Linked DNA regions of Homo sapiens: region 1 is linked to region 2. The links come from fine-mapping of genetic effects on gene expression. A gene starts in region 2. The other region holds a variant in brackets. All regions are shown on one strand. Distances are from middle to middle. Region 1 overlaps DES (desmin). Region 2 holds the start of DNPEP (aspartyl aminopeptidase).

What was found. PIP is the estimated chance that this variant, and not a neighbour inherited with it, causes the effect.
Region 1: its variant is fine-mapped to the expression of DNPEP in prefrontal cortex (ROSMAP, PIP 0.95).

The regions. Positions count from the first base shown.
Region 1 is chr2:219,425,610-219,434,576 of GRCh38, reverse strand. It overlaps DES (desmin), which reads right to left. Exons shown (of 9, transcript NM_001927.4): 8 at 8,832-8,914; 9 at 7,843-8,628. The coding sequence ends at 8,587. Among named protein-coding and RNA genes, the nearest start is that of SPEG, 4.8 kb to the left of the region's middle. RefSeq lists an enhancer at 2,338-5,427. The variant G/TG (reference allele first, on the strand shown) is at 4,604.
Region 2 is chr2:219,382,529-219,392,332 of GRCh38, reverse strand. It overlaps DNPEP (aspartyl aminopeptidase), which reads left to right and starts at 4,421. Exons shown (of 15, transcript NM_012100.4): 1 at 4,421-4,574; 2 at 5,170-5,263; 3 at 5,353-5,441; 4 at 5,555-5,668; 5 at 5,922-6,047; 6 at 6,235-6,365; 7 at 6,627-6,702; 8 at 6,802-6,909; 9 at 7,890-7,967; 10 at 9,119-9,202. The coding sequence starts at 4,539. It overlaps DNPEP-AS1 (DNPEP antisense RNA 1), which reads right to left and starts at 3,763. Exons shown (of 4, transcript NR_183823.1): 1 at 3,537-3,763; 2 at 3,285-3,446. RefSeq lists silencers at 3,620-3,769, 3,850-4,369, 4,390-4,629 and an enhancer at 4,894-5,740.

The sequences.
Region 1 (8,967 bases), 43 kb before region 2:
CATTTCCCTTCCTCCCTCATCTCAGACCCCTCATCCCTGCCCGGCTTCGCTGGGAGGGGAAGAAGAGGAACGGTCCTGGTGAGATGCCTGAGAGGTGGATGGGGAGGCAGGCCCAAGTGGAGGTGAGCAGACAGCTCCGAAGAGGGACCATGGCCTCCCCCAGCGCCTCCATTACAGCTGGCGAACAGTAAGACCAGGAGCCTGGGAGTCAGGTGGATTGGGGCCTCCACTGCGCCCTGCCCTTACTTGCTGGGTGACACCAAACCTCTCTCAACCTCCAAGTCCTCATCTGTAAGAATGGGTGGTGGAATAGGGTTGCAATAGGCAGAAAAGAGTGGGCAGGACATTCCAGGCAGAGGGAACGGCATGAACAAAATGAGCCTGATGAAAACAAAGGCGTCCTGGGAATTAGAGAGGTTTGGAGGGATTGAAGCGTAGTGGGTGGGGTGAGTGGAAGAAGGGAGGTGGGGCCTGGAGAAGGCTTTGTTTGCTAAGGCTTTGGTTTCTCTACCCTGAAAGCAGGGGGCGCCACTACACAGCTTTAAGCGGCAGAAAAAACACGGTGGGAGCTGTGTCTTAGGAGGATCCTCTTGGCGGCCACAAAGTGGAGGATGGATAGAAATGACGGCCAGTTCAAGTAAAGGCCAGATTCCCAGCCTCCTTGCCCCACACTGGTTCAGCAGCTGAGCTGGGAGGAATCTGCACATTTAACAAATGACTCAACTGATTCTGATGTGCCTAAGTGTTGCACGTTGAGAAACATCAAGAGTCCAGATGAGACCTTTGTGATAGAACAGTTCTGTATCTTGGCTGGGCGCGGTGGCTAACACCTGTAATTCCAGCACTTTGGGAGGCCGAGGTGGGTGGATCACTTGAACTCAGGAATTCAACACCAGCCTGGCCAACATGGTGAAACCTGTCTCTACTAAAAATACAAAAAATTAGCCAGGTGTAGTGGCTCATGCCTGTAGTCCCAGCTACTCAGGAGGCTGAGGCAGGAGAATCGCTTGAACCTGGGAGGTGGAGGTTGCAGTGAGCCTAGATGGCACCACTGCACTGCAGCCTGGGCAACAGAGTGAGACTCTGTCTCAAAAAACAAAACAAAACAAAAACAGAACAGTTCTGTATCTTGACAGTGGTAATGGTGGTGGTTATGTGGATCTACACAAGTGATAAAGTTGCATAGAACTAAATGTGCATTTGCACTTGTACGCAACACTAACAGTACATGTAACACTGGTAAAACTTGCAGAAGGTAGGTGGATTATACCAATGCCCCTTTCCTGGTTGTGATGCTGTACTATAGTCATACAAGATGTTACCCTAGGAGGAAACCAAGTGAAGGTAATTCAGGATCTCTCTGCATTATTTCTTATAATTGCCTGTGAATCTACAGTTATCATAAAGTAAAAAATTTTTTAAGAAGTCCAAGTAGGAGACCCAGGCCTGACCTTGAGCCCTGAGGGATGAAACCCAGGAAGGGCTGAGAGGAGCCATGAGTATTCAGAGGCAGAGAATGTTACTCTTACCCTTGCCTCCTCTTCCCCATCCTCATTCTGGGATACTGAAGTCAAAGAGAAAGAGAGAGAGCGCGAGAGACAGTGTGTAAAAGGTATAGGAGGAACCATTTAAACACTGAATTACATCCATAGAGGTTAAGAACCTTGAGGAATAATTTTTTTTACAGTTTGCATACATTAAAGTTTTTTTTTTTTTTGAGACGGAGTTTCACTCTTGTTGCCCAGGCCGGAGTGCAATGGTGTGATCTCGGCTCACCACAACCTCCTCCTCCCGGGTTCGAGCAATTCTCCTGCCTCAGCCTCCCGAGTAGCTGGGATTACAGGCATGCACCACCACACCCAGCTAATTTTGTATTTTTAGTAGAGACGGGGTTTCTCCATTTTGGTCGGGCTGGTCTCGAACTCCCGACCTCAGGTGATCTGCCTGCCTCAGCCTCCTAAAGCACTGGGATTACAGGTGTGAGCCACCGTGCCTGGCCTAAAGTTTATTTTTTTATGAGGTGCAGTTCTCTGGGTTTTGACAAATGCATAGAATCATGTATCTGCCACTCCAGGACCATACAGAGCAAACAATTCCATCACCCCAAATACTAGCTCATGTACCCCCTTCGGAGTCATAGACTCTACCATAGACCCCCTCCACCAACCTCTGGCAACCACTGATGATGAATCGAATTCTAAAGTGTAAATTGAATTCTAGAAGGTGACAATATGGGGGAAGTCATTGCAAACAGATGGTACATCAAGAAAAAAGGAATAGAGAGTATTTCGAAAAACAAATAACCCAAAGCCACCCAACACTGTGCCTCTAAATGTGTGTGGAATGCAGTGGGTAGACTGTAAATGTTGGCTGGTTAGTAAGTTGGTTGAATAAATGAACGATGCGATCTCAAGCAAGTTACCTAGCATCTCTAAGCCTCGGTTTCCTCATCTATAGAATGGAGGTAGCACAACTCAGGGTTTTAATTATTTATTCATCCATAATTTTTTTATTTATTCATCCACAAATATTTTTGAGTTTCTACTATGTACTGGCACTGTGCTAGGGACTAGGGATATAGCAGTGAACAGACAAAGATTTCTGCTCCCATGCTGCTTTTACTTGAGAAGAGAGATGAACAACAAATACAAAGAAATAGGCTGCGCACGGTGGCTCACGCCTGTAATCCCAGCACTTTGGGAGGCTGAGGCAGGAGGATCACCTGAGGTCAGAAGTTCAAGACCAGCCTGGCCAACATGGTGAAACCTCATCTCTACTAAAAATACAAAAATTAGCCAGGCCTGGTGGCACACACCTGTAATCTCAGCTACTTGGGAGGCTAAAGCAGGAGAATTGCTTGAACCCGGGTGGCAGAGGTTGCAGTGAGCCGAGATGGCACCACTGCACTCCAACCTGGGCAACAGAGTGAGACTCCATCTCAATAAGAAAGAAAGATAAGAAAGAGAAAGGAAGGAAGGAAGGAAGGAAGGAAGGAAGGAAGGAAGGAAGGAAGGAAGGAAGGAAGGAAAAGAAAGAACCTGTAAAGATTGTTACAAGGAGGTAAGCACTGTGGACAAAGCTTAAGGCAAATGTGAGTGTGGTGGGAGATTGCACTTTCAAATAGGGTGTGGCTGGAGTTGGCCCCACTGGGAACATTTGAGCCAATCTTGAGTAAGAAAGCAAATGATGCAAATGTCTGGGGAGGGCTGCTTCTGGCAGAGGTGGGAATATGCCTGGTGGGCTCCAAGACGAAGGCCAGAGAGGATGGAGGGAGCAAGGGGAGAGTGGAAGGAAATGGGTCAGACAGGCAGCAGAAGCCAGATGGCCTAGAATTTTGCAGGCCATGGCGCTTTTGTTCCTGGTGAAATGAGAAGTCATCTTAGGGCTTTGAGCAGAAGAATTACATGATCTGACTTACGTTGTAGTAATGACATTAAATTATTATATTAAATATTCAAATGAAGATTAACTATTTAAAAGGGCCTGGCACAGAGCCTGGAACATGACTTGCCTTCTGCCTTCCTAGATCCATAATTGGGGCATTCGTTGATTTGCGTGCAGGAGTCTGTGGGCCTGGGTAGGGAGGGCACAAGTCCATGCAAGTCACTGGTGCCCTCTTCTGGGAGGAGCCCACACTAGCTGTGACAGCTGGAAGCCGTCAGGCTCTGGCCAGGCCAGGCCAGGCACTTGGGACAGCTGGCTGCAAGTCACTCGTCTGTCCCTCAGCATGGGCCCCACAGTGCCCTGCAGCCTGGCGCCTAGCTGGGTGTGTGTGCTGCCAGTCTGCCCTGTCTTGCGATCACAAGCCTCTGGTGTCATGGAAAGAGATCTGAGCTCCAGAGGCCAGGGAGCCTGGAGCCCAGTCCTCCTTTGCTACAGACTGCTGTGTGACCTTTGCAGGTCACCCTACCTCTCTGGAGGTGCCACTGGGCACTTCTTAAGCCATAATGATGTACCACATGCCTGGCACATGGGAAAAATCTCAGTAAGTGTTCATTGAATCAGTGAATAAAGTGGGGGCCATCAGCCCTTCCTGGTGAATATTTAATTTAGAGAAAAGTAAGTAAAAGTGCGCAGTAGGTATTCATTCATTAAGTATTTAAATATTTAATGAGTACCTACTATTCTTCCAGGCATTCTTCTGGGCACTTGGGATACAATAGTGAATAAAATGGATTAAAATTCTACCCTTAGGTAGCTGACGTTTTAGGTGTTAAATCGAAGGTTATTGAAGCATTTGCAGATGTGCCTTGGGTGAGCTTGTGGTGAGAGGAAGGAGGGAGGGGGTGAATGAGTAGAATAGGACAGGGGCCTCAAGGGACGGGGGTGAAAATATACCTGGAGTGGACAGACAGGCAGGAAAATGTCTGCTGATCCATCAGTCCTGGCATATGGTGCCTGCCTCCATGATCCCTTCCATTACACCCTGTCTGCTGGGGTCAGAGCTGGTCTGGGCCTGATCCTTTGGGTCCGGTGGGAAGCCGATCAGCATTCTATGAGCCCTGTTACTTCTTGATGTTCAGAGTCTTGAAGGTTAAGACCCCAGAGCCCAAGGAGCAGGAAGAGGCTTTGCCGTGGAGGTGTTTTTTTTTTTTTTTTTTTT[G/TG]AGACAGAGTCTCCCTCTGTTGCCCAGGCTGGAGTGCAGTGGCGCGATCTCGGCTCACTGCAAGCTCCGCCTCCCGGGTTCATGCCATTCTCCTGCCTCAGCCTCCTGAGTAGCTGGGACTACAGGCACCCACCACCACGCCCGGCTAATTTTTTTTTTTTTTTTTTTTTGTATTTTCAGTAGAGAGGGGTTTCACTGTGTTAGCCAGGCTGGTCTTGAACTCCTGACCTTGTGATCCACACGCCTCAGCCTCCCAAAGTGCTGGGATTACAGGTGTGAGCCACCGTGCCCCGCCCCTGTTGTTGGGTTTTTGTTTTGTTTTGTAGAGATCGGGTCTTGCAGTTTCCCAGGCTGGTCTCAAACTCCTGGGCTCAAGTGATCCTCCCACCTTGGCCTCCCAAAGTGCTGGGATTATAGATGTGAGCCACTGCAGCCGGTGGAAACCCAAATCTGTTTTGGTTTGTATTTGCCCATTCTCTGGGTTCCCTTGGTCACAGCTCAGCTCTTATGAAGAGAGGCAAAGATTAGAACCAGAATTTCTAGTTCCAGGCAGGCTGTGCTCAAAGAATCCTTCCCCACCTGGGGGATAGAGGGTGGCTCTGGGCCTTCTTTCTTCTCTGGGGACAAGTGGGTAGCAGTCACAGGAGACAGGTGTGCTGAGAAGGAAGAGCTTTATTTCAGAACTGTCCCCAGCTGGAAGGGGCCACCAAAGAAGCGGTGAGTTCTCGGGCTCTGGAGACATTCAGGCAGAGTTTGAGGAATGCTCATGAAGGATGTGGGGCAGGGCTGAGAAGGGGGTTTCTGCACCTCAAGGATCATTGCCTGGGAGCCTTCTGAGGTCTGACTCTGAGAGCCTGAGATTCCTACATTCCTTCCACCTTAGTGACTAGTCTATACCTAAGCATTTGGTGGGCTGGGGGGTGGGAGGGGAACTGCCTCCAAAACCTCCCCTAACCCATGTGTCCCTTTATCCTTTGTGGGACAGATAAGTGCACATAACTCATTCAGGGGAAAGAAGGATTCCAGAAACTACTCACAGATATACACACCCCCTCTAATCCACCTGAGCCCAGCCCTGTCCAGGTGTTTCCAACACAGAGAAGCTGGCTCAGACTCCAGGGCCCCCAACAGACTCAAGGATAAGAAGCCCCTTACCCATCCCTCCTCCTCCATCCCAGTACAAAGACATTGGAAATGGGACTTTCAATTTCATTTCCTGTGAGGGTCATTGTGGAGTTTCTCTACAGGTTGACTGGGGTAGTTCTGGGGCCTGTAGGGTTCACCCTATTTGAGGACTGAGGGGAATGAAATGACCATGAGTCACCAGTGGCAGAGGGAGGGGACATGGGGCTACACCCCAGGTCCTCCTGGGGCAAAGCTGAAGAATAAAACAGAGAAGGGGACTTCTTAGAGAGAGGGGTGACTTGTGAGCCAGGGCCACATTAAAGGAGGGGAAGAAAGAGACACCAGAGAGGCTTTTGGAAGTTTCTGGAAAAGTCAGTTTGGAAGGTCAGATTAAGGACCTTAAGACTAAAACCTCCTGAGGTTTATTTAACATACAAACTGTCTGAGCTTATTATCTTTGTGATCTCTACCCTCTTCCTGACTCCTTTAAAGGATAATCCCTGAAATCTCAGAGGAGAAACTTGAAGGCTGAGGCCTACATGGATCCATCGTTTCCTACATCTTTGATCCACTGGAATATTTTTAGAAGGAGTAAAAGAGAGACAGCCTTCACTCTGCCCCCTACCCCACCTCTTAGCTATCAAAGTGCTCCAAACCCTATACTGAATCATTAAGTTTTCCCCACAAATTCAAAATGCCTCCTTTAACATGTGTATGTCTCCTGTATGTGAGTCTTGTTCTAAACACACTATTTTGTTCATTAATATTTGTATATTTCCTCTTCATTAACAAATCTGTTAATTATCATAGCCTTCTAATATATTTTGATGTTCTTTCTATGATTTCCTAATTTTTTTCCTTTTTCTTTTTTTGAGACAGAGTCTCACTCTGTCACCCAGGCTGGAGTTAGTGGTACAATCTCAGCTCACTGAAGCCTCGACCTCCTGGGCTCAAGCTATCCTCCCACCACAGCCTCCCAAGTAGCTGGAACTACAGGCTCATACCACCATGCCAGGCTAATTTTTTATTTTTTGTAGAGTCAGGGTCTCGTTACATTGCCCAAGCTGGTCTCAAACTCCTGGGCTCAAGAGATCCTCCCACCTCAGCCTCCAAAAGTGCTGGGATTACAGGTGGAGTCACTGTGCCCAGCCTCCTAATTTTTTTCATACGTCTTACACTCCCCTCCCATCTTCTCCAATTCTCTTAAAATTTTTATTTGGTATTTTAATTGAGATTGCATGGCATTGAAATTATAGATGAATGGAAAATGAATTGACTTCTCTTCAGAGTATTGAACCTTCTTATCGAAGCACAGAACAGATCTTTCCATTTTTCCAAACATTATTTTTCCTGAATTGGCTCCTGTGTATAAAAATAGTATTGGAAGGAGTTAATAGAAAGAGGCCATTGGCTCACATCTGTAATCCCAACACTTTGGGAGGCTGAGGTAGCAGGAGGAGCAATTGAGCCCAGAAATTCAAGACCAGCCTCAGCAACACAGAAAGACCTTGTCTCTACAAAAAATAAAAAGCTAGCCAGGCATGGTGGTGTGAACCTGTGGTCCCAGCTACTTGGGAGGCTGAGGTGGGAGGATCGCTTGAGCTCAGGAAGTCCAGGCTGCAGTAAGCCGTGATCACACTGCTGCACTCCAGCCTGGGTGACACAGCAAGACTCCATCTCAAAAAGAAAAAAAGAGAGAGAGAAAAAAAAGGGGCTGTTGGCATCTTTGAAGAAGGGACTGGGGGAGCCCTACTTCAGAGCCAGTCAGTGGGGAGCAGCTACATCCTTCAAAAGGAATAGCAGGTGGTGTCCCCCAGCCTGGCTGACCTGAAGGTGTAGTAGAGAGCACAAGGGGTGCAGTCCTGGAACTGGGGCCTAACGAGAGGTATTTGTGGTTCCCCAACAAAAGCCCTGTCCAGCCCTCCCTGCCCCATACACTGCATACAGACATCAAGGCCAGGTGGCTCTGGGAACAGAAGTGGGCGCGAGGCCCTGGGGAAAGTCTGGCTGGGTAGAAGGTCAGTATAGTCCATCTCAGGGTGACAGGTTGTATCACAGGGCCCCAGGGGCCCCACAGGAGACCTGGCAGTCAAGACAACAGGGGCCAGCTTGGCTTGTGTGTGAATCTCTTTATTGTTTCTCTCCAGAGCCCCTGCAGCAGGGGAGGGGAGGGCGTGGGGAGGTGGGCGCCCCTCCCACCAGCCTGAGACCGCTCTCTGCCTCTCTCCTCTCCTCTCTTCTCCAGCATCTCACCCACTTTCTCTCCTTCTCAATCTCCTGCTCCCACCTCCAGCACCTTCGGGGATTCCCTCTTGTAGCCCCTGCTTTCTAAGTCCACCCTGGGCTGGGGAAAGGAAAGTAAGAGACCACGGGGACAATTTCAAGCCCCCCAGTCTCCACAGGGGCTAGTCCCCCTGGCTACCTGCCTGGCTTTCTCTCTCCTGGGCTAGGGGCTGGGGAGGTCTGCGGGGCTCAGTCCTGGCCCTGCAGTATCCCAACACCCTGCTCTGGGGCTGTCTCCAGAGCCAAAGGCTAGTGCCTGAGGTCACAGAGGTGGGAGGGACAGGGCCACCGCTCCCGCCTGGGCTCCATCCAGCACAAGAGCCAGGCTCACTCACTGCCAACAGCCAAGGCTCACAGCTGGGGTCCGCAGAGGTGGCCGGGGCATGCCCTGTGACCAGGCAGGGATGGGCTATGTCGCTGTTGGGGACCACGAGGGATGGCCAGTGAGGAGGGGTCAGAGGCTGTGAGGGGAGGACTGAGGCTGGGTGTGGTGTCCTGGGATGGAAGAAGGCTGGCTTCAGGGAGCAGTGAGGACAGGGGTGAGGACGGTCTCTGGTGGCAGAGGGTCTCTGTCTTTAGAGCACTTCATGCTGCTGCTGTGTGGCCTCACTGACGACCTGGGGAGGAAGAGAAGCCCAGTCCAACCATGTGCTAGCCAGAGAATGGAGCCTCAGCCCTGAGCCATCCCCACCCCAGGGCCGCAGGATCTCTCTTGCCCCACTAGCCAGGGACCTAGACCAGCACAGCTGGGTGGAAGACAGTCCCCCCAGACACATCCATAGCCCCCACCAAGGGTAAGGAGCCCAGACAGACCACTTACCTCCCCATCCCGTGTCTCGATGGTCTTGATCATCACCGTCTTCTTGGTATGGACCTCAGAACCCCTTTGCTCAGGGCTGGTTTCTGTAACAGGGTCCATCGCACACTCAGCCTGACCAAGTCCAGGCTGGGCTATA
Region 2 (9,804 bases):
TATAAACTCACACTGAAGTGTATGTAACTGACTTCTATGTTCACGCAAAAGTATTTGCACTTTAATATGTGTTAAACCAAAAAGATGAATGAATAATGGTAGCATTGTAAACATCAGCCGAGATCTTCCAGGGAAGATTTTCTCAGAAGGCCAAGGGCAAGAACGATTCTCAGAAACTTTTTCTTTCTTGATCCCTAGTCATCCCTTGACTTTGCCACCTGAACTCCAAATCCATCACCATTCCCTTACCCAGAGGTGACCATTATCCTTCCAAACCTGTTTCTATCCATTTACATATGTATTTATATAACATCTAGAAATATAAATTTAGCTCATTGTGTGAGTTTTATCTAAAGGCCCTCACCTTACATTCTAGAAATTGCTTTTTTTTTTCACTCAACAGTATATTTGGAATTCTTTTCTGTAACAATTCCTAAAGACTGACCTTTTTTTTTTTTTTATGAACTGCTACACAGCACTTTAAAATACTGTGTCTCAAGCATTCAAATCATCTAGGAATCTTGTTAACATGCAGATGCTGATTCTATAACTCTAGGGTAAGCCCTGAGGTTCTGCATTTCTAAAAAGCTCCCAGATGTTATTGACATTGCTGGTCAACAGATCACACATTTAGTAGCAAAGATGTACAGTACGGGTGGAATAGTGTGCTGGGGCCAACTTGGACAAGCTCATGAGAACTGATTGTCAAATTTCCAGGAATTTGGTGAGCTTGTTGTTAAACACAGCAATCATTAAAAAAAACTAAATTATATACACTTACAATTAAATAAATTATATTACAGATAATGAAAACCAAAAATCCATCACCTTTCCAAACATTTTACTGCCTTCTTAAATCTATGCTGTTGATGTTATTTCTATCCATTGTGTCTGCATGGTGGAAATCTACATAATGGCATGCTTCCGCACAGCTCTTCCCAACTCCCTTCAGTGACATCATCTCGACAGCTTGAAATCGGCCACGGGGAACATTTACACCACAGAAATTTGGGTATAAAGGTCTGTGCAAACATACCCCCAAAGTTCAGGGAAGCTGAAAAGCCGACGAAAGAGGCTGACATATACAGTCTCTCAGAAAGAAACATTTCATAGGGACTTATGAATAGAGGCCATAGTTTCAGAGATGAAATGGTGGATTACCCTGCAAACCCAGGGCTTACATACCATAGGGAAACAATGTGTCAAACAATTGAAGTTGACCCCTCAGGCAAAGTCATGAATGCTATGTGAATCTGTCTAAGCGCAGGATTTATGGTAATAGTAGGTAAAGTAGAAAACTTAGAGTCATTCCTGGAACAGGTTGTTGAAAAGTCAACATGGCAGATTAGCTTCCCAGATGGAGTTGCTTTAGCCTCCAGAAAATGCTTGCATTACCCCAAGCCTTCTCCAACACTTGATATTACCCATCTTTTCCATTTTTGTTAATCTGCTCAATAAAAAGAAAAAGTATCTCATTTTTATTATTTATTAATTTTTTTTTTGAGTTGGAGTCTCGCACTTGTTGCCTGGGCTGGAGTGCAATGGCACGATCTCGGCTCACTGCAACCTCTGCCTCCCGGGTTCAAGCAGTTCTCCTGCCTCAGTCTCCTGAGTAGCTGGGATTACAAGTGCACACCACCATGTCCAGCTAATTTTTTGTATTTTTAGCCAGGCTAGTCTCAAACTCCTGACCTCGTGATCCACCCGCCTTTGCCTCCCAAAGTGCTGGGATTACAGGCATGAGCCACCACGCCCAACTGTTATCTCATTTTTAACTTGCATTTTCCTGTTTAAAGTGAGATTAGGTGTCTCATATGTTCATGACTAGAAATTTAACAATATTTCTTGCTCTTGTAAATATAGCCCTTTTACTTTTTTCTTTTTTACCCAAACCAAAAATGGTCAATAAGAACCTTTTTACTTTTATATTTTCTAGGTGATTATTGTACAAGAAAGTCAGTGTTTTTTAAATTAGGCTACCCTTCCTACCAGTTCTAATAATAGCTTGATCGTTTATTTTCTTGGGGATTCTAGATAATCATATAATCTATAAATAATGACCAATTTTACTTTTGCACATATAGAATTGTTAATTTTGTTTTGTGGTACTGGCTCTGACTACAGCTCCACATTGTCTAGCAGCAGTAATAGCTCATCAATGTCTCACTTCTGATTTGAATAGGAACACTTCTGTATTTCCCTCCCAAAATGCTGGGATGACAGGCGTGAGCCACCACTCCCGGCTCACTTTCTAAGTTATGCATTTTGGTGATGTTTGAATCTCTTACTCAAGCATGTACTCTTTTCTGTGATCAGAAAGAACATTAAAGGTGGTTCCTTATTCAGGTTGTCTCCTTCCCTTATACATTGTAGCCTTGTTTCGGCCCTTTCACTGTCCTCCTTGAATGTGTCCCCTCCCCAGGAGGTAGAGGACAAGAATGCTCTCTCCATGTCCTGCTCAGCATTGAGCTTTATACATAATTTTATTTATTTATTTATTGAGACAGAATCTCACTCTGTCGCCCAGGCTGGAGTGCAGTGGCACGATCTCAGCTCACTGCAACCTCCACCTCCCGGGTTCAAGCGATTCTCTTGCCTCAGCCTCCCAAGTAGCTGCTGGGATTACAGGCACGTGCCACTACACCCGGCTAATTTTTGTATTTTTTGTAGAGACGGGGTTTCACCATGTTGGTCAGACTGGTCACGAACTCCTGACCTCAAGTGATCTACCCGCCTCGGCCTCCCAAAGTGCTGGGATTACAGGCGTGAGCCACTGCGCCAGGCCCATAATGGTATTTCAACAAACGGTTAGGGAATGCCATGAATTTAAGCCAGCACCTAGTGGGTGAATTCTTGAAAACTCCCCTGCCATATCTACTAGTTTGAAGTGAGGGCTGCAGGACCTTTCCAGCCTCTCCCCATCCCACCCTGTCACTCCCCACCCCAGGTATATAAACGGCAGGTTGCTCCATAAACCTGTGATCTCTGGAATTTTGTTTGAACCCCTGGTAGCTGGGCCCTGTTTTGGATCTAGAGGCCACCAAGAGTCCTGATCAGTTCCTGCAGCTAGGAAGGTGCATGGGGTTTAAACGTGCTACTCACTACTCCTGACATGGGAATACTGGAACTGCCAATAATGTGGAATTTGTTTTTCTGTTGTTTTTAACAAATGGAAAGGGCACAGATATCAGAGTCAAATCCCAGATCCACCCAAACAGCTATGTGATCTTGGGCAAGTCAACTTCTGTGTCCCTTGTGGACCTCCCGTGTAACATAACACTTACCAAAGCGCATAGAAAAAGGTCCAGAAAAGATCTGAGAGAAGGCTGTAGGGTTGTTCCAGGCCTCTGCAATCAAACTGATGGAGTTCAAACCCCACCTGTGCCGTTTATTACCTCGACGGATCACTAGTCTCCGTATCTCAGCTTTCTCTGTTCATGCATAAACTGGGGACAGTAAGAGTACATAGTTGATGGGGCAGTTGTGAAGATTAAACGAGGTAACAGGCCAATCTTTATCATAAAGCTAAAGCTCACCGTGAGCGCCCCATGGACATTAGCCTTATTGCTTTTATTGTCACAAAGGTGGCTGTGGCGAGAGACAGCACTTTGTACCGTACCCGTCGGACCCGGTGAGCTGGAGGGGCGAGCTTTTTATTGGCCTCGAGGCCCGGGGCACGGGGAGGCGGGCCGTCCGCGGCTGTCCTAGCACCTCCGCGGCAGCAGAGGGCCCTGGCGGCGGCTGCGGGTCGCGCGGCGTGGGTGACGGGGGTGCAGGGCGGGGCCTAACGAGCAGCCCCCGCAGGGGCGGAGACGAGGGCGGGCCGGAGGCGGAGGCGCGGCCTGGAGAGGGATGGGGCGGAAGCGGGGCGGGCGGTGCAGCCTAGCGAGGGGCGGGGCGGACGAGGAAGCGTGACGAGCGGCGGGGCGGGTGGAGCAGCCTGGCGAGGAGCGGGGCGGGGTGGGCGGCACGGCCTGACAAGGGGCGGGGAGCGCAAGGAGGCCTGACGAAGGGCGGGGCGGAGCAAGGGCGGGGGCAGGGCGAGTAGTGGGGTACAGCGAGGGCCGGAGCGGATGGGGGAAACCTGGTGAGGGGCGGGACAAAGCGGGGAGGGCGGTGCAGCCTGGCGAGAGGCGGGGCGGACGAGGAAGCTTGACGAGGGGCGGGGCGGGCGGTGCAGCCCTGCGAGGGGCAGGGCGGGCGGTGCTTCCTGGCGAGGGGCGGGGCGGGGCGGGCGGTGCGGCCAAGCTAGGGGCGGGGCAAGGGCGGGGCAAGGCGGGTGGTGGTGCCCAGCGAGGGGCGGAGCGGACAGGGTAAGCCCGCCGAGGGGCGGGGCTGACCGAGGTGGGCGGGGCGGATGCCGAGGGGCGGGGAGAGGTGGGCGGGGAGGCCAAACATGGGGCGGGGCGGCGCGGCCGGGGAAGCGTGATGAAGGCCTACGAGTGCGGCGCGGCCTGAAGGGGCACGCGGGGGACCTGCAAAGCTAGTGAGGGGCGGGGCAGGCGGCGCGGTGGGGGCGGGCCGAGCCCGGAGGCCAGATGAGCGGACACAGCCCCACGCGCGGGGCCATGCAGGTAAGTGGCTCCCGACGGCCCCACTTGAATTTCGATCCCAGACCGGGTCCGGCGCCCTCCGGGGCCCAAGCTTAGCGCGGTGCTGCAGTGGGGCCGCCTGACCCAAAGCGAAACCGAAAGCCCCGCGGAGGGTGACCTGACGACTTTCCCGGGACTGGAAGGGGGAGTCCTGCGAGAGACTAGGTGGGTGCGAGAGAGGAGTCAGGGTGCTCCTTGGGGTACAGGGCTTTGGCTCCGGGCTGGGTACGCGCACGTGATGCAGGCCGCCTCAGAGTATGGGGCCCGCTTGGGATCCCGGAGTTTGGGAGCAGAACAGGATTTCCTAGCTGGGCAGGGACATGGGGGCGGGACTTAGGGAGTCGGGCTAAAGTTCGGATTAAGGGGCGGGCCTGGCTCATGATCCTGGGCCGGCGGGCTGAAGCTTTCAACGGAGTTTCAGCCCTGGGTTTGGGTCTCTCGGTGGGGACGGGCGGAAGCAGAGGTCTGTGCCTTAGAGTGGTCACTTCTGGGGGTGGGGATGGGAGAATCCTCGGAACCTGGGTGAAAGGTCAGGGGTCCCAGACCTTGTAAAAGTCTGAGCATCCCCCTCCCCTAGGTGGCCATGAACGGTAAGGCCCGCAAAGAGGCGGTGCAGACTGCGGCTAAGGAACTCCTCAAGTTCGTGAACCGGAGTCCCTCTCCTTTCCATGGTAAGCGGTGGCCAGGGCAAGGGAGGAGGGTGGAGGCTGATGCGCCCTTCACCAGCTTCCATCGCTGTGAGAGGGTGCTTTTCCCACAGCTGTGGCTGAATGCCGCAACCGCCTTCTCCAGGCTGGCTTCAGTGAACTCAAGGAGACTGAGAAATGGAATATTAAGCCCGAGAGCAAGGTACTGGGGGTGGGGTGGGGGTGGAAAGGCAGGTCCCTAGGCTGGTCTCCAAGCCCTGTGTGCCAGCTGAGTAATGCAACTCACACCCCTGTCTTTCCTCCCCTTCTCCTCAGTACTTCATGACCAGGAACTCCTCCACCATCATAGCTTTTGCTGTAGGGGGCCAGTACGTTCCTGGCAATGGCTTCAGCCTCATCGGGGCCCACACGGACAGCCCCTGCCTCCGGGTAAGGAACTCGGACGGTGTTGGGGTGGGAGGAGATGTCAGAGGGAGTACAGGGCAAAAGAGAACTAGGAGGTACAAACTGGGGCCTCTATCCCCTGGAGTAAGGGAGAAGGTAAACTTGTTGGCCCCTTCCTTCACACCTTGAGCCTTTCATGTGACACTAATATTCGCTGTCTGTTACTTATGAGTAGCCAAAGTCTCATCTCCACATATCGTCATGAAGCCTTCTCTGACTTCTCCATCTTTACACTCAGGTGAAACGTCGGTCTCGCCGCAGCCAGGTGGGCTTCCAGCAAGTCGGTGTGGAGACCTATGGTGGTGGGATCTGGAGCACCTGGTTTGACCGTGACCTGACTCTGGCTGGACGCGTCATTGTCAAGGTGGGAACCGAGGTTGGGGATGGCGGAGCCTCCTCAGAAGACTGACTGCCACACTCCTCAGGGTACCCGTGGGGAAGAGGGGTGGGGGCAGTCTGGTCAGAGGACCACCCTGCTTAGTCTGAGTGAAGTAAAGACTGACCACTGGGGTAGGAGGCACCCTGGGCTGACCTGGCCTGGCTGGCTGCAGTGCCCTACCTCAGGTCGGCTGGAGCAGCAGCTGGTGCACGTGGAGCGGCCCATTCTTCGCATCCCACACCTGGCCATCCATCTGCAGCGAAATATCAACGAGAACTTTGGGCCCAACACAGAGATGCATCTGTGAGACTGGGGCAGGGCTGCGGTGGCTGGGAGGGATGGAGAATGGTACCAGGTGATTATTACCTAATGGTAGCCATTAGGTCACATTTTACTCTTGGGACCCAGTTAATTTCTAAGGGTCCTCACAGCCTTGTGATTTGGGGAGTGGGCTGGGAATTGAAGGGCAGAGGCAGTTGCCCATCAGGAGGCACCTGAACTTATGGATGCCGCACTCAGCTGTGCCCTCCTCGCAATCCCCCCACAACCCACGTCTCCCCACAGAGTCCCCATTCTTGCCACAGCCATCCAGGAGGAGCTGGAGAAGGGGACTCCTGAGCCAGGGCCTCTCAATGCTGTGGTAAGAGAGTCTCCTGATCATGGGGAGGGCGGCAGAGTCCCCTGAGAAGTGGGGAGGAGAGGAGGAATGGACTCTTCCCAGCATCTTTCTGCTCTTCAGGATGAGCGGCACCATTCGGTCCTCATGTCCCTGCTCTGTGCCCATCTGGGGCTGAGCCCCAAGGACATAGTGGAGATGGAGCTCTGCCTTGCAGACACCCAGCCTGCGGTGAGGACTGGCTGTAGGAACCTGTGGGTGAAGGGCCTCCAGGATCCTGGCCACCCCTAGCCCGTCCTGCTGAAGCACCCATCACCTCCACCAAGCCCTCAGTAACTCTCATCCCCGTTTTTCCCAGTAGACACATCCCCCACTGCTTCTAGGGCGGTGGTTCTCAAAAAGACAAGTTCCCTACCCCAGACCTGCCCACTAGGACTATCTGGGAATTGGCCCTTTTTACAGATTCCCAAAGAGTTTCTTCTACAGGTGGGCCCTGTCTGCTTTGACCCACACTGACACTGAACTGCTTAGGGAAAGAGGCCTGGATGTGGCCATCTGTTCTCTGTCTCCCGGTTGCTGATGGTCAGAGATTGCTAAATCTTTGGATGCTGTGTCCTGCTTGAACACGTACTAAGTTTCTGTTTTTTGGCTGGTTTCCTCTGTTTACTTCTTTGGCCTTTTTGATGACAATTCAGCCCTTCCTTTTCTTGACCCACAGGAAGAGGTCAAGAGCTATTGGCCTCCACCCTTTTGTTCCTCAGCACCAACCCAGCCCCCTTCTCCAATCTCTGCTTGGTCCTGCCTAGCAAGGAATCCCAGCACTTTGGGAGGCTGAGGCGGGGGGAATCACATGAGGTCAGGAGTTCGAGACTAGCCTGACCACCATGGTGAAACCCTGTCTCTAATAAAAATACAAAAATTAGCTGGGCCTGGTGGTGCATGCCTGTAATCCCAGCTACTCAGGAGGCTGAGGCACGAGAATCCTTTGAACCCGGGAGGCGGAAGTTGCAGTGAGCCGAGATCGAGCCATTGCACTTCAGACTGGGCGACAAGAGCGAACCTTCATCTCAAAAAAAAGAAAAAACAAAATAGTGCCCTAAGCCAGGGGTCAGGGAGAGGTTGCGCAAGAAACCAAGGAGACCCTTGGGAGCAAAAGAAAGGTGAGTGGGGGTGGAGGGTTGAAGGTCGGGCTGACTGTCTTACCTCTCTAGGTCTTGGGTGGTGCCTATGATGAGTTCATCTTTGCTCCTCGGCTGGACAATCTGCACAGCTGCTTCTGTGCCCTGCAGGTGAGGAGCCGGGGCGCCCCAGGCAGCACATAACCACCAGCAGAGGTGGTATGTTTGGGGTCGGGGGAGCTGCCTAAAGCCCCAGCAGGTTGTGAGAGAGGGCCATTGTCTACCCGCTCAGTCTGCTGGTGCTGGATGGACCAGGAGGGGGCCCTAAATGTTGCAGCCTCAGCATCGCCACCTTTGGTCTCTGCCCTTGCACTATCAGGGTGTTGAGGCAAGAAGAAGGAGGAGAAGTTGTTTCAGGCACCATGGTCTCTTGTCCTAGCCTTGCTCCTGCTGCTTTTCCTGAAGTTAACAACCTCTGCCTCAGGGAAAGGCTTTATCATCCACAAGGCAGTATCATCCACCTCCTTCTGCTTCCTACGCCACTCCCCAGGCTTAAGACCCCAGCCTTCTCCCTGTTTCTTGGGATCTCAGTCAGGTAGCCTCTCTTCCTAGTCACCTTGATATTCCCCACCTTCTCTCCACCCTAGTCAGTTCCCTTTCTTTCTCTCCTCTTGCCCTTGATCTCCCTCTGCCTTTTTCTGCCTTTCCTTCCCTGTAATCCTGTGGCTGGAGATAGGCTTTGGGCTGTAATTGAGACCAGAGCTGGACCTGGGACCTGCATCTACTTCTGCAGGCAACCAGCCAGTCATGTCACCTTGATGGAGTCTGTCACCTCTTTGAACCTCAGTCTTTTCCCTGAGGCCAATCAGTTTATGTGATGTGTGTAGCCTTTTGGCTTTCCAGGACTCTCAGCTCTTCCTCTCTGTCCTCCACATCTTCTACTGCCTTTTGCATGGGAAGGTAGAGAACAACACCCAAAGGATGGTGTCTCCTGTCCCAGTTGAAAAGGTTTCTACCTAGCTATTGATCTGGCCAAAAAAAAAAAGAAAGAAAGAAAAAAAGAGAAAAAAAAGGTCCTCACCACACCTTAAAGGTTTCTACCTATGTAGCTATTTATTTGGCAAGAAAAAAAAGGTCCCCACCACACCCTCTGCCAGGCAGTGCCCTAATTGATAAAAGTCATGGCCATGGAAGGCAGACAGGGGAATGTGCACACCCAAGGTGCTGGTGGATGGGGGAGCGTGCACACCCAAGGTGCTGGTGGGCTGAGTTCCAGCAGAAGCAGGTTGGAGATGATGCTCTCATTTCCTTCCCTGAACCAGGCCTTGATAGATTCCTGTGCAGGCCCTGGCTCCCTGGCCACAGAGCCTCACGTGCGCATGGTCACACTCTATGACAACGAAGAGGTACGTGGAGGGTTCTGGGGAGGGTCACCTCTGCGGAGTCTTCCACAGCCAACTTGTTGTGCCAGGCATCCACCGTGAGCCAGGGCTCTTCTGGGGGCCCCAAGACAGGGGAGATGCTGCCTGTGCCTCCTTAGCACTTGGTGTCTCCTCTGACTCAACATAGATCTGCTTATTCGAGGGTGACCGTCTCTCCTGTATCTCTCTTTGTGCCACATGGTGAGCTTCTTCCTTTAGGACAGGGACTCTACCCAGCCCATCCTCGTAGCCCCAGGGCTCAGCACAGAGTAGGTCCTCATGATGCCTGCGTGTGTGAGGCTGCAGTCTCAGCTGCATAACAGAGCTTGAACAGCTAGTGCTCTCTCATGTAACAACCCAGGTCAGAGTTAGCAGTTTAGGAGGGGTCCCTGCCGTCCTGAACACATGACTTCCATTTCAGGATTCAGGGTGGCCGTTCCAGCTCTGGCCATCATGTCTACACTGAGTTAGTAGGAAGGGAAGAGAGGGCAAAGGGGCAGTAGACACCCCCTGGCTTTAAGGGCATGATCCAGAAGTGACATTCATCACTGCTTACATTCCACAGAACTTAGCTGCAGGGGAGCCTG